Homo sapiens: one gene and its partner. The protein of the gene in region 1 interacts with the protein of each later gene in a pairwise test. Each region holds a gene or a part of one and is shown on either strand. Other genes may lie near its edges. The genes, in order: BCAT1 and C17orf75.

Evidence for each region.
Region 2: the proteins of BCAT1 (region 1) and C17orf75 interact in a two-hybrid assay, tested with the Homo sapiens proteins (one large-scale study listed by BioGRID).

What each region holds. Positions count from the first base shown.
Region 1 is NC_000012.12:24,879,314-24,883,135, reverse strand, and holds part of BCAT1 (branched-chain-amino-acid aminotransferase, cytosolic), read left to right. Parts: intron 1-1,724; coding exon 1,725-1,835; intron 1,836-3,822.
Region 2 is NC_000017.11:32,331,934-32,335,755, forward strand, and holds part of C17orf75 (protein Njmu-R1), read right to left. Parts: intron 3,510-3,822; coding exon 3,390-3,509; intron 2,907-3,389; coding exon 2,842-2,906; intron 2,673-2,841; coding exon 2,536-2,672; intron 1,588-2,535; coding exon 1,484-1,587; intron 46-1,483; coding exon 1-45. UniProt on the Homo sapiens protein: As component of the WDR11 complex acts together with TBC1D23 to facilitate the golgin-mediated capture of vesicles generated using AP-1. May have a role in spermatogenesis.

The DNA of each region.
Region 1 (3,822 bases):
TTTTATATTTTTGGTAGAGATGGGTTTCACCATGTTGTCCAGGCTGGTCTCGAACTCCTGACCTCAAGTGATCCAACAGCCTTGGCCTCCCAACGTGTTGGGATTACAGACGTGAGCCATCACACCCAGCCTTGAAGTTGCCTTTTTTATCTTCAGTAGTGCTTCTTGGCTTAAATTCTTTTGTTTTATAAATAGTAATGGAAGCTTGCCAGTTTTATTTTAGAAAGTATTTGCAGGCCAGGTGCAGTGGCTCATGCCTGTAATCCCAGCACTTTGGGAGGCCGAGGCAGGCACATCACTTGAGCCCAGGAGTTCGAGACCAGCCTAGGCAACATGGCAAAACCTCGTCTCTACAAAAAATACAAAAAATTAACTTGGGCGTGGTGGTGCGCGCCTGTAGTCCCAGCTACTCTGGAGGCTGAGGTGGGAGGATTGCTTGAACCCAGGGGGTAGAGGTTGCAGTGAGCCAAGATCTTGCCACTGAACTTCATTCAGCCTGGGTGACAGAGAAAAACAACTCTGTCTCAAAAAAAAAAAATAAATAATAAAAAATAAAGTATTTGCATGATATATCTTTTTCTGTCTTTTTGATTCAGATATTGTCAGCTGAGTCCAATCTAACAAACTTATATTTTAACCGAAGCTTTAGTACTGTTATATTTAATAAACTAATAATATATTTGCACTTAAATACAACATCTAATTTTATGCTTTTTAATTATACATGATTTGTATTTCTTTTTTTCCCATGTAAGTTTTTAGGGTATACATCTTTAAAGGCCTTACTTTTCATTATCGTTCAGTTTAACTTATTTTCTAATTTCCATTTTTCTTCTGTGACCTATGGTTTAGTTAGTGGTGGATTTATTTTCCAAAATATGGATGGTGTCCAGTCAAACTTTTGGTATTGATTTCTGGCTTATCTTGTGTTTGGAAAATATGTGAATTCTACAGCTGGTCTGTGTAAGAGTTCTCTGTATCAGTTAGGGAAGTTTGTTCTTCCTGTTGTTCATATCTTGCATATCTTTACTAAGGTTTAGCCTGTTTGTTCTATAAATTACTTAGAGAAGCTGTGTTAAATTTTCCCACTAAAATTATTGATTTTTGTCTTTCTCTGTATTTATCAGTATGTATCTACTGAAGTCTTTTCAAATCCCTGATCAGTGGTTTGTTCAGGACAGCACTTTGATTGAGGGAGGTGACGTGGCTTAACATAGTATGGTCTTGAGCTGCCTGGTTTCTGTGATTTAGGGACTGAACCAGCTCTGGTCACATCTGGATTATCTACTATCCAGCATTCAAATGAACCAGATTACATGAAAGGATATGGGGGTACTCTTTGGGGGCCACGGTGCCACAAGGCCTTTGGTTTCGATCTCCATTGCCTAGGGAATTAACCTGTGCTGTGTGATTCTAGATGTTTTCTTCCTGCTCCCTTAAATAACACCTAAATGTGTTATTCAGCAGTGTGGCTCCTGCTAAGCAGAGGAGAACTCGGAATTCCTACCAAATTCTGATAATAAAATAACTTTCCTCCACCTCAACCATTGTTTTTACCAGTCCTGTCAACTGTTAGCTTTCCTGGATTTAATGATCTCAAGTTGAGGTCAATGTCAACAGCTTTATGGGATGAATAAGATGAACGCCCATAGGAAAGTCAGTCTCTTGAACACGGGTTGTTTTCTTTTGGTTACCCTCTAAGATTTTTTCTCTTTGATCTCCAGTTATTTGAAGGATTGAAGGCATTTCGAGGAGTAGATAATAAAATTCGACTGTTTCAGCCAAACCTCAACATGGATAGAATGTATCGCTCTGCTGTGAGGGCAACTCTGCCGGTATGTAAGTGTAGGAGTTTCTTTTGTGTTTCTTTTAATGTAACGGGTCACGGTGTTGACCACCAAATAAATAATTTCTGAATAGTTAGATAAATATTCAGTACAAACCATATGAACATTAACATTATTTCTGATCTACTTTAGTTAGGTAAAAATACAAGAAAATGGCCGGGCACGGTGGTTCACTCCTATAATCCCAGCACTCTGGGAGACTGAGGTGGGTGGATCACTTGAAACCAGGAATTGGAGACAAGCCTGGCCAACATGGTGAAACACCATCTCTGCAAAAAATACAAAAATTAGCCGGGTTTGGTGGCACATGCCTGTGGTCCCATCGGTGTGGCTGAGGCATGAGAATTGCTTGAACCTGGCAGGTGGAGGCTGCAGTGAGCCAAGATAATCACATCACTGCCCTCCAGCCTAAGCCGCAAAGTGAGACTCTGTAAAAAAAAAAAACAAAAAACAAAAAACCCAAGAAAATAATATCATTTGGCAATTCCACAATTTTTTAAAATCAGTGTCTGTGGGGGATTCATATGCAAGTGAGAGATGAAAGAGTAAGGAAGAAAAATGTATCTCAACCTAAAATAATATTTGAAGACCACATGAAATTAATATTGAAAATGGAAAATATGGTGTGCAGCACAGGTATTTTGCGGATATTTTGCCTAATTGCTTTAGATGCTAGCAAGATATAGTAACTTAATTATTTTGATATTTTATCTTAAGTAATGTTTTGAGATAAAAAGATATCAAAATGGTTTCTCATGGCCATTGAATCGTGGCTGTCACAATGTTTCTTATGGAGCAGAAATCATTGTAAGATGGGTTAGATTTTTTTTTTGAGAGAGAGTCTCACTCTGTCACCCAAGCTATAGTGCAGTGGCACAATCTTGGCTCACTACAACCTCCACCTCCGGGGTTCAAGTGATTCTTGTGCCTCAGCCTCCTTAGTATCTGGGATTACAAGTGCACGCAGCCATGCCCAGCTTAATTTTTTTAAAAATTATTTTTAGTGGAGACATGATTTCACCATGTTAGCCAGGCTGGACTTGAACTTCTGGCCTCAAGTGATCTGCCTGCCTCAGCCTCCCAAAGTTCTGGGATTACAGGCATGAGCCACCGTGCCCAGCTTCAGGGATTTAGCCCAACCTATGCATTCAGGAAGCCTGAGGACGGCTAAATCCAAGTGTTCTTCATTCCTCTGCCTATTTTTGTAACCCGCATTTCACCCATCTCCTTTGGAGGCCATAATATAGTAGCAGAGGGGAAATTAAGGTAAATTCTTTGGACTAGGGCATAGTTTCGCTCTTCTTCTCATTACAGCTAGATCACTGGGGAAAAGTCTTTAAAATGGGGCTGGAAGGAAAGGGAAGTAATATTTGTTAGACATCAATTTTGCTACCAAACTGTGTTATGTAGTTTCACATTCCTTATCTGTGTAATCACAGCAGTAAGGCGTTGCTAAGAAGATTATTTGTTGTACAGTTTATTAGTGCCTTTGTACAGAGAAGAAAACTTGAGTCCAGAGAGATTAAATGACTTGTCTGAAGTCACAAAGAGCAAAAGGACAGGGCAAGAAATTAGATCCAGGTGTTTTTATTCCTGGTCAAGTTCTCTTCTCACTGAATTCTGTCTCTAGACAGCAATACCAGGGGCTGAGGCAGGTGCTACAGGGTTCACCTATATGATTGGCAGTCCCAATTTCTATAACATTACTACATTATTATTGCTGTTACAGGTCAATATTTAAATAGACAAATTCTGACTTCATGAGCTTTACTCAGATGCTTATGACTGACTCATTTCTACCTTAGGTGACCCATCACATCTCTGAAAGTATGTTTCTCTACTTTGCAAGTGAGCAGAGACTAAATTATTTTATGAAGTATCACCCATCTAGTAGATGTAATTTTTTTTTCTTTAGAAATAAAGTGCTCTTTGCTTTTGCCCATTTTCCTATTGGGTTATCTATCTCTTCATTGAC
Region 2 (3,822 bases), on another chromosome or scaffold:
TGCCTGTCGGATAAATCTCTTCAAATTGTTTGTGTCTTGTATGGCCTAGAAAATGATTACCCAGTTAAAAATGTGTTAAGTGAAATAATAATGAAGCTCAAAAAATAACTCCTATCCAGCTGAGAACTCAACATATCTTCCTGAATTGTTTGCTTTTCATATTAAATATTTCCAAAATTTAAATTGCAGTATGCTTTGCCCTTGGTAGAAGAAGAAAATCTCCTTTTTTTTCTTGTTTCGCTCTTGTTGCCCAGGCTGAAGCGCAATGGCTTGATCTCGGTTCACCACAAACTCTGCCTCCTGGGTTCAAGTGATTCTCCTGCCTCAGCCTCCCAAGTACCTGGGACTACAGGTGTGTGCCACCACACCAGGCTAATTTTGTATTTTCAGTAGAGACGGGGTTTCACCATGTTGGTCAGGCTGGTCTCGAACTTCTGACCTCAAGTGATCCACCCGCCTCAGCCTCCCAAAGTGTTGGAATTACAGGCGTGAGCCACCACGCGCAGCCAAAAATCTCTTATACAAAATAAAAATACTTTAAAATAATCTACCTAGCATGGTGGCTCATGTCTGTAATCCCAACACTTTGGGAGCCCCAGGCAAAAGGATTGCCTAAGGGCCGGTAGTTTGAGACTAGCCTGGGCAACACAGCAAGACCCCGTCTCTACAAAAAATAAAAATAATTAGCTGAGTGTGGTGGTGCACACCTGTAGTTCCAGCTACTCAGGAGGCTGAGACAGGAAGACTGCTTGAACCCAGGAGGTTAAGGCTGCAGTAAGCCATGATTGCACCACTGCACTCTAGCCTGAGTGACAGAGTAAGATTCTGTCTCTTAAAACAAACAAACAAAACTAAATAAGGTGACAACACGTCCCCATCAGAATTTTTTTTTTTTAGACAGAGTCTCACTCTGTCACCTAGGTCGGAGTGCAGTGGCACAATCTGGGCTCACTGCAACCTCTGCCTCCTGGGTTCAAGCAATTTTCGTGCCTCAGCCACCTGACATAGCCAGGATTACAGGCATGCGCCACCAGGCCCAGCTAATTTTTATAATTTTAGTAGAGAAAGGGTTTTGCCATGTTGGCCAGGCTGGTCTTGAACTCCTGGCCTCAAGCAATCCACCTGCCATGGTCTCCCAAAGTGCTGGGATTACAGGGGTGAGCCACTGCGCCCAGCCCCCATCAGAATTTTGAAAACTTAGCCACTGAACCAGTTTTTTTGTGCTTTCCAACTAAGTTAAGTCACAAATTGTAAGACTGATGTTCCTTAAATATAAGCAAGCATTCAACCCAATTTATTAGAAATGATATGTATACAGAAGCTGCCAAAAAATAAAGTAAATGTCTTCTGATAATTCCAGTTTTGAGAACATCCTAATTAACAGACATCACAGCTATAAAGCAATTTGTTACTCTGTCACTGGTACTAATTAAAATTCAGACAAAAATTTCATGTGGCACTTGGCACACAGCCAACTAATTACCTTTAGTTTAAAGTTCTCCAGTACTTGTCGGAAAAGAAAAGGGTTACCTCCTTTGGCACCATTTAAAAAAGCTTGCATCCAATCCTCACAAAACCGGTTACTTCCTATAAAACATTTCAGAGAGACTAAATAAAATGAAATTTTACAAAGCTTTATTTATTTATTTATTTGAGACGGGAGATTCGCTCTTGTTGCCCGGCTGGAGTGCAGCCGGAGTACTAACTATATCGTTAGTAGAGATGGGGTTTCACCATATTGGCCAGGCTGGTCTCAAACTCCTGACCTCAGATGATCCACCTGCCTCAGCCTCCCAAAGTGCTGGGATTACATGTGTGAGCCACTGCGCCTGACCCATTTATTTCTTTATAAAAACACCTATAATGAATTATTTAAGACATGTATAATGGCCTAAAAAAACAGTGTGCTCACCACATGGCTAAGGAATACCAAAATGGCTGAAGCCCCCTGTATGCCCCTTCCCAATCACATCCCCCTTCCTTTCCCATCAGAGAGGATAATCATTCCCACAGACGTCTTTAAACTTTTCCCATATACCTTTGCACGTGTAAGCCTTATCTACATTATTCTGCATATGTTAAAACTTTTATGTATTTTTTCTTTTATGGCTATTTCACTAAATAGTATGTTTGAGAGCTATATTGACACAAGTAGCTCTAGTTCATTCTTTTTCACTGCTCTGTTATATTCCATTGCATGAATATAGCAGCTTATCAGTTTTCTTGTTGATAAACACTTAAATTGCTTCCAATTCCTTGCTTTTTCAAGTAATGCCTTTATGGACATTTTAAAATTCATCTCCTTGTGTACACATACTAGAATTTCTTTATGTACCTAGGTGTGGAATTGCTAGGCATGGCATGATTTCCATGTTTCTAGAATTATATTGTTTTCACCAAGTGGTTTCTCATGGTTTGAGATAACCATGTAAAACTGCACAAGGCAGGAAGAATAAGGTTGTATCATAGGCTCTCAGTGCAAAGATGGGGACTCGCAAGAGATGTAGGAAGGCTGCTTCAGAGGTTGTAGCTCACCTGCATTGCAGAACTGAGGCTGGGAGCTGCTGCAATCGATGACCACAGACTTATGCTGCTCCTCTGTCATGGCCATGCACAAAGAAGTCATGGTGCCTTCATGAATAAGTCCTTGAAGACTGGCCACACTCAGAAACCTGCCACACACACAAGTCCATTTCCACAAACAATATTGCAGGACGGAAGGATGAAAACAAATTTATTTTGCACTGGGCTGGTGGGGAAGGGATGGAAGGAGCAGTTTACAAACACAGATGTCAATCTTGCTGTGGAAAAGCTTTTCTCTTTGAAAAAACTGTTCTTTACCTGTTAATGTCTCTCTTTGTTTTTTCATCTGATTCTTTAACTTCAACAGGAGTGTAACTCAAAGCCTATGAGAGAAAAATAAAGCCTGATTGGTACATATATTCCAGTTTTTCTTGAGCAGCTACTCATGACTAAATGTCCCCATAAGTCCCTACCACACTGGACAACAATTGATGGGCACTGGTCACAAGCTCTCCAGAGCCTTGTTCAGCCACTGCTCATTAACATTTTATAGAATCAAAATTGCTCTGGATTTTTGTTTTCCTTTTCAAATTGTTTTGGAAACTATACCTTTCCCAGATCACTTGGAAAAGTAATTATTTTAAAATGTTTTATCCTATTAGGAAGACTCAGCATTTGAAATTCAACTCTACCTTAGTAATATCACTTTCTAGATCTGAGAAAATAAAGTGTGGTCTATCTTGATAGCAAGCATAGTTTGAATATTTGGGGAGGGATGGGAGTCATGTTCAGAGAAAATGAGTATGTTTCTAAATCATCCAAAGTGATTCTCAGTTAAGGAAATGCTCTCATTTGGCAGTACTTACAGCATGTAGCAGAAAGGTAAGCTTTTCCTGAAAGAGAAGAACAACCCTTTGGATTGGGCATACAACATCCTCAAACCAGCTGCTCAGATAGGATTTTATGTGACTCTCCAGGCCCCTTGCCTAAATCAAGAAAGAACATCATTTGCTTTAATATAAGCCTTTCCTTTAGTGGACTTCATATTTTCTTCATCATATCCTTGATGGTGAAAAAGACCAGGATAGACACCTCCCTTTTTAAAGCTAACACCACCAATTCAAAAAAAGAAATTGTGATATACCTTTCCTGGCTTGTTGGGCAGGGTGAGGGTTAAATCTGTACTGAATTTATTTAAAACACACCAAGAAATGCATTCTATAAAATGAAGAGACTGAATAGGGTTCCATGCTATTTCTTCACAGGGAAGAGTTGGGCACTCACAAGTCCCTCTCCTCC